Homo sapiens: one gene and its partner. The protein of the gene in region 2 purifies or fractionates together with the protein of the main gene of each other region. This does not show direct contact. Each region holds a gene or a part of one and is shown on either strand. Other genes may lie near its edges. The genes, in order: ARHGAP17 and WDR49.

Region 1 (3,916 bases), on a different chromosome or scaffold from region 2:
CGCTTGTAGTCCCAGAACTTTGGGAGGCCAAGGCAGGCAGATCAGTTGAGGCCAGGAGTTCGAGACCACCCTAGGCAACATGGCAAATCCCCACTCTACAAAAAATACAAAAATTAGCGGATGTGGTGGTGCCCACCTGTAGTTCCAACCACATAGGTGGCTGAGGCGAGAGGGTCGCTTGAGCCCAGGGAAGTCAAGGCTGCAATGAGACAAGATCGCACCACTGCACCCCAGCTTGGGTGACAAAGGGAGACCCTGTCTCAAAAAAAAAAAAAAGTGTGAAGGGAGAAGCCTCTAAGATGACCCAGGAGTCAAAGAGACCCTAAATAGCTTGGTAGATTTAAGTCTCAGAACTTTGTATAAAAAGAGTGAAAGTCCCTTACCTGTCACGAACAATGTAAAAACAAGCCAAACGACTATTTGACAAATGTATCTTGGCACTTACTAAATACTAGTTCCACAATGCACGTTGCTCAGAACACTAACAAGGGTACGAAACTCACAAGAAATTATCATGTGCTTGTAAACTGTTCCTTGAAACATCAGCCGCCATTACCACACGTCTACCTTCCTCTCAGCATTATTTCTTTAATTTTCCTGCAAATAACAGAAAAGTAGGTTTGTCTGGGCTTTAGGGGCAGCGATTAACCCTGAAAATAAGAGTTAATTCTCACCACAATAATACGGTAGGGAATCGAAAAAATTAAACAAGGAAACTAAGCAAAAAGATGGAGGAAATGAAACAGTAAAAAGCAAATTTAGAAAACTCGAGAGGAAGTAAAAGTATTTTCATACACTCAAAAAAAAGAAGTGTCCCACGTGCTTCAGCCAAACCAAACTCCCCTTAACTGTTAAAAACAGAAAATCAAAAGAAGAGCTGTGAGAAATTCATACTTTCGTATCTCTTTGCTGAATAAACACTAAATCGGTACAGTACAGCCAGCTGCCCTGAAAGACCTTGAAATATTAGCCCCAGATAATACAGCACATGACAGTCACCTCCAGAAACTCTCAAAAACCACAAATCATTTCTTGTTCTGACAACCTGATCTACCAACTCTGGTCTAGCCTGCCATTTAATAATCAATAACGTTTCTTGTTAAGCACTTCAACCGTAGCAAAGGAAGATAAAGAAGCATTTGTTTCCAAACCTAAGGTGAGACTTTTTAAATTGGCGCAAGGCGTCTCCATAATCCTTTTCCGCCAATTCCTAATTTCTAAATGTCAAGAACTGGCAGCAGCAGTCCAGTTCCTAGGAGCCCTGGTTTTGAGACAGCACCACCTCCGAATTCCCTCAAAGGGCGTTCTGAACTCACTGAGCAAATCCGGCTGGCTTTCATGTCCCTCTAGCCATTTCTTGCCGCCATGCACTTACAGGAGAAGGACTCGCAAACAGCGGGAGCACCGGGAAAGCCTGGGACTGCCGCCCCCCACAGCACAGCGCTCGGCACAGCGTTAGGGACAGAAGTCACCGTTGTTGAGCCCAGGGCAGCGATCCCAGCTGGCTCGGCCCCCGGGAAGGGAGGAGAAGGACCGGGTCTACTCCCCGAGGGCGATGCTCCCGGGGCAGGGACAATGGGCAGGGGACCCCGCGGTGTGGCGGAGGAGGCGGCGGCCCTCCCCTGCAGGTCTCGGGAGCCCGGCGGCGCTGAGAGACAGGCGGGCCGCCTGGAGCGCGGCGCTCGGGCCTCAGCGCGGCGCAGCCCCCGGGCCCGTGCCCCGCTGGTCTCGGGCAGGGGCTGCGGCCCAGCTCAGAGCCGCCGGACCGCGGAGGAGCCGTCCCGCCCCCGCGCCCTCCGCCCTCCGCCCCCAGCCCCGGTGCGACCCCCGTGCTGCCCGGCGCACTCGCCTGCCCACGGTCTGGTTAGCCAGCTGCTTCATGCGGTTGAACTGCTTCTTCATGGCGGCGGTGGCGGCGGCGGCCCGCGGGGCTCGGGCCGGGCAGGGCGGGGGACAGCCTGGCAGCTACTACATCGCTTCCCGGCCCAAACGGCGGCGCGGCGGTGGCTCCCCGGGCCGGCGGCCCCGCCCTCGCCTCGTCACTTCCAGTGGCACCGCCCGCCCGCCCTCTAGGTCTGGCCGAGCCGAGCTGAGCCCGAGTAGAGCCGAGTCGAACCGAGCCGAGGCTAACAGTGCCTTACCTGACACGGGCGAAGAGCTAGAAGGCCCCGGGCGAGAAGACCACTAGGCCTCCTCCGCCTGGCCTCCCCGACCCCAACGCTGCCCGGTCACCCTCTCGTTTATTTCAACGTATGAAAAGCTGTTTCTAGCAGGGCGCAGTGGTTCAACGTTGTAATCTCAGCACTTTGGGAGGCCGAGGGGGCAGATCACTTGAGCTCGGGAGTTCGAGAGCAGCCTGGCCAACACGGTGAAATCCTGTCTCTACTAACAATACAAATTTAGCTGGGCGTGGTGGTGGACGCCTGTAATCCCAGCTACTCAGGAGGCTGAAGCAGGAGAACGGCTTTTACCCGAAAGGCAGAGGTTGCAGTGAGCCGAGATGGCGCCACTGCACTCCAGCCTGGGCAACAGAGTGAGAGACCCTGTCTCGAAAAAAAAAAAAAAAAAAAAAATTAAAGTCAATGTGTGTTTTCCTTAACACACGTGCTCACACACTCATGTCTTCCTGGTTTGGTGGCCTTGGCTCCAGGTAAGCCCCTTCTTTGCATTGGATGGGCAGCAATGTGGCTTCTTTCATCAGCCACATCTCAAATGTGCTCCTAAATGTCATAGAAAAAGGAAAGAGCTCCCTAACTATGGGATAAAGGAGACTGATGCCAGTTTGGAATTCTTAATATCAAAGAATGAGGGACTTCAAGATCTTTTTAGTGACCTAGGAGAGACCTAGGAAGCATCAGAGCTTCAGATAGGGCAGCAAACTAAAAGTTATCGACATCAATTACAACAGAAAGAGGTAGAAATGAGCCTTCCTAAAACAAGAAAGCAAGCACTACAGGATCGGTTGCAGGACCGGCAGCCAGCCCTGGAGTCAGCACATTCAGGGAAGGCCGGAGGTTCCCATCCACACTGCATCCCCTCCATTCCATGTGGTACCCATCATGCTTCAGTGTTCCACGACGCTTACATGGGTTTTTATGACATAATTTCATCATAACAAGAAATAAACAGATAGTCCAATGAAGTTCTAAAACTTGAGTCTCCAGTTGGCCATTGGAAATGTATTGCTCAGACTTATAAAATAGGAGGAACAACTAGTTTTGATGAAAATGAAATCTACAAACTACAAACACCAAATATTAATATCATCAAGGAGCTCAAACAAAAAAGAAGTCAGGATACTGATGACCATCAGCTTGAATTATCAGTATTACAGAATGTTCATCAACAGAAATTGAGGGAAATAAGTTGTAAGCATCAAGAAAATCTAAGCAATTAGGAAGAAAAGATTGAAGAACTGGAAAATTTGTTACAGCAAGGTGGCTCAGGAATTACAGTACATGATCTCTCTAAACTTCAAGAGAAGGAAAACACTATTCATGCAAGCTCTACAAATTGAAAAAGTAGAGTCTACCAAAAAATTGAAGAATTTGAACATAGAGTAAAAGACAAATAAAAAATTATCTTCTGGGGCCAGGTGCAGTGGCTCACACCTGTAATCCTAGCACTTTGGGAGGTCAAGATGGGAAGATCACTTGAGCTCAGGAGTATGAGACTAGCCTGGACAACATACTAAAACCTCATCTCTATGAAAAATTTAAAAAAAAAAAAAAGGCCAGAAGCAGTGGCATGCACCTGTACTCCCAACTAGTTGAAAGGCTGAGGCAACAGGATCATTTGAGCCCAGGAATTTGAGGCTGCAGTGAGCTATTATCACACCATTGCACTCTTGTCTGGGTGACAGAGTGAGACCCCTAGCTGAAAAGAGGCTATTGGAAGAAACAACTCTGAGAAAACC
Region 2 (3,916 bases):
TTACTAAAGGCACTCTTCATCACACACTGATCCAGATTAATTTTTGTAAGTGCCTGTTGTAAAAGTACACAGAGAGTTTGAAAAGGCAGGAAGCTGTTAGAACTTGTCACAAAAATCAGCACAAAGGCAGCAGGATTTGGAAGGCAAATTTTTCATTTGTAGTGAGATACAACTTCACTTCCTTGAGTTTTGGTGATGACGCCATTTGCTAGCATTATTCATGAATTTTAACAAATCAGATAAAACCACCACAGAATTCCTCTGCCATTTCTAATTGTGCCAACTGCAGTAGTATTGGATTTGTCTTCATGCTATCACCTTAATGTTTTCTGCTGCCATTAAAAATAGGTATTTTGATTGCACTAAGAGCAATGCGTGAGAAATGGTATGACCTGCTGTCTTTGTTCAGCAGATGATGAATTGACTGAGGCTGCAGAATGCACTTTTTACTATATACAGGTGAGACTAAGCTTCACCTGTTTACCTTCTCACAAGTCTCCACTGAGATGCCTTTAGAAAGAAAAAAATATTTTTCAAAAAAGCAATTGGTTATTATCTTCTTTTCATTCTTCCACCCTTTCTCTACCTTGATTTCATTGTAGCAGTTGTTGATTATTTGCTGATTATGCGTTAGTTCCAAGTTAGCAGAGCACAGGGCCTGTGCACTATTAACTTAACATGCATTTTGTTTAGGAAATCTTTATCCTGTTGGATTCATGTTCCTTAGAGCAACATGCCAAAGGAAGGTTATCTTGTGGCCAGTGGAAATCATGCCATATATGGACTCCAAAGTTGACAATCTGCCTCTGAGTTCTGGCTCTGCCCATGGGAGAATTCAATTGAATATTTTTAGTCCTTCATCTCCTTATTTGTAAATGGGAAGTAAAAATTTATGCCGTGCCTATGTTTCAGGCTGGTAAAGGATCAAATAACATGATGCCAACATAAGTGCTTTATAAAATCTTACTATACTTGAAAGGTATTCAATTTTTATTCATCATTTTTACCTACACTGATTTCCAGAAAGAATTTTAGTTCAGTTACAACAGAAGATACATAGGCAATAGGACCGACTATTAAAACAAAGATAAAAGAACAAGAATTATATAATAAAATAGCAGATTATTGTCCCAGAAAACCTAAGTTAAGCATAGTTGTAAGAGTTGAACACTAAATTTAGCTTTGAACTTCCTGGCAGCTAAGACAGAACACAAAATACAATTAGACACAAAGGTCTCCATAATTTACAAACTGAAGCATGCTGGTTCATTAGGAGAGAAGGAAATTTTCCTCCCACAAAATTCTAAGAGGACCATGGGTGAGATCATTATCTGGGCACACAGCTGTCCCTACTTGCCATACGACTTGAAGTAACTTGAAGTTACCTGTAGCCATATGACTGAGTGCTGGCCAATGGGATGTGAGCTGGACCACAGAAAACATTCCCTAGTGCTCTCCACTGCTACCAGCTGATGTATGGCTTGTGTAGAAGGCGGAAGGTGGGGACAGCCTGAGACCTGAATCCTTGCTTGCAACTGCTTACCCATTAGAAATACCTGCTTTTTACTTTATGTGAACAGGAAATAATACCTCTGTCATGTTGCAGATATTATATATTTTACACAGTTTGCATACACTATAAAAAATATTTTCTAATTCTCAGCATTGTTGGATAGCATAATATCCAACTTTATACCTTAACAGTTTTATCTAAGAAAAAATTTTAAATGAACTTTATGGACCATCTCATTTTATCAGAGATAAGAACATCTAAAGGTTCTGGGGAAAGGGAGTGAAACAAAAATGAGTAATTTTATTTATGTGTTTGGGATGGTGGTGCCTGGGTAGAAAGGCAAGAAGGAAGATATAAGAATAGTTTTGGAGTATGAGACACGTCTAGGAAGACCTGTTCATTTGGGTACCTTAGTAGTGAAGGTACAATGGGCAATGAGAAGGCCTAGAGAAGGATGGGTCCTCCATAAATTTGGAGGAAGCTTGACAGTTTAGAAAGAAGGACAAGTTAAAAAAAAGGTAAGAAAAGGCCCAATCTGACTTTCTATATTCCTGTAGAGCCTAGCTTGCCTGGCAGGACATCAACATCCTCAGCTTTGTCTTGAAGCAAACAAGCACAGTTCATAGACCCTGCTGTAGAATGCTTTCTAAAATCCCCAAGATACTGTTGAGGTGTTTTGGGAATTTTATAAAGATAATCAAGGATGAGAATATCAAAATTCTTTAAATGTAATTGTATTACCCGTTAAGCACAATTCTAGAACTTGCAGAATTGACTACTGAACTTCTCCAGTCTTTTGAGATTCAGTTTGAATAAGTGCATTGTGTTTAGATCTCATTCACCTCCAAGACAGATTTGTTTTAAGAATTCTCACCACACAGTCTCTGGGGCAGTCTTGCTAGGATTTTTACTGTGCCTTTCTTACACTAAAACTATTTGGCCCTTCCTACTTTAAGGATAAATACCTCACATTTTACATGTGGCTTCTAGGTATAGTTAAAGCTAAAGATTTAGTAGGGCTTGGGCAAATGATAGCATGGAGCTGACAGGGTAAAGCCAGCCTCCAGCTCTCAGCTTACAGTCAGGCCAGAACAGGTGTGCCAGGAGAAGATATAGACACAGTTGCTGATAAAGGCAGTTCAGGACCTAACCTGGAGAGCCCAGGAGCACAGGGCAAACTATGGTCTCAGACCAAACGGGCAGCAATTAATCTAGGATCAAGGTCCAATGTTAAACCATCATTGACATACAGAGATCAACAATGGAGAATGTAAAAAAAGAAACACTCAGAACCTACATAGCCAGACTCTCAGGAGAAGCTCAATAAATATCAAGCTCCATGGCTTTCCCAAAGTTCCATTTTCCTTAGACCAAAATTTTTACTTCTCACCACTCCTATAAAATCAGCAAACCACAGCTACTCTTCCTCAAACAATAGTTGGCTTTTGGAGTTTCAAAGAAAATGTAAAATATGGTTGACATCAAAATAATATGAGCATCCAGAGACCATGTCATTTCTCTAAGTATTGTAAGTGCTACAGGGAAGTTTGAGTAACAACCATTTTACGATTCTATGAATAATGCAAGTTTCTCTCCCTTCAGGCTGATATATGGCTCTTTTGACACCATCACTTAAAGGAAAATGAAATCCACAAGTTACTTTTCTGTGCTTCTACCCAGGTAACTTATTTGTTCCAAAGAAAAGAATCAAGACGTCAATTAGAATTTTTGCCTGCTAAGAAAATATGAAATGAGAGATAGAACAATTATGCTTTTGACTCTTCTATGTGAATTTATGTCTTTGCAGCTCTAACCACTTCCTTCCACAACTAATAGGAATGAAGACGCATAGCAGCAAGTGTCACTTGAAGTTTAATTTCCTTTAAGAAAAGTATGAATTAGAATCAAGGCACTGTCAGAGGTCACATGGTTTAACTTCTACTTACTAAATGAGATAATTAGCTCAATTATCTAATGTTAATTGAGCACTTACTCTCTGTGGCATGCACTTTTTAAAGTGCTTTCCAGATAGTACCTCCTCTAATCTTCATGAAAGCTCTGTTATCCTCATGTTAGAAATAAAGGAAACTGAGGCCCAGAGAGATTAAGTATTTGCACAGAGTCACATTGTAAGTAGCAAAGCCGGGATTTAAGCTCAGGAAATCTGACTCCTAGATCTGAAACACTGCATGATTCTGATCCATTTATACAACTGCACAATGAACATAAGCACTAATTGCTTTATTCCTAAATGTTACTACTACGATTAGTATGGTATGTGATATTTTATTCGGAAATACACGTAAAACATTTACTGCATAATTCAAAGACCCAACTTCCTGTTTTTTCACTTAAGAATTGCCACTGCTATTTAAGGAGATGGACTTCACCTAATATCTGACA

The links.
Region 1: the proteins of WDR49 (region 2) and ARHGAP17 purify together in Homo sapiens (affinity purification with mass spectrometry, with the first as the bait; 2 studies listed by BioGRID). This does not show direct contact.

The regions. Positions count from the first base shown.
Region 1 is NC_000016.10:25,013,360-25,017,275, forward strand, and holds the start of ARHGAP17 (rho GTPase-activating protein 17), read right to left. Parts: upstream 2,011-3,916; 5' UTR 1,903-2,010; coding exon 1,850-1,902; intron 1,520-1,849; exon of another isoform or gene 1,317-1,519; intron 1,270-1,316; exon of another isoform or gene 554-1,269; coding exon of another isoform or gene 504-553; intron 1-503. UniProt on the Homo sapiens protein: Rho GTPase-activating protein involved in the maintenance of tight junction by regulating the activity of CDC42, thereby playing a central role in apical polarity of epithelial cells.
Region 2 is NC_000003.12:167,647,291-167,651,206, forward strand, and holds part of WDR49 (cilia- and flagella-associated protein 337), read right to left. Parts: intron 1-3,916.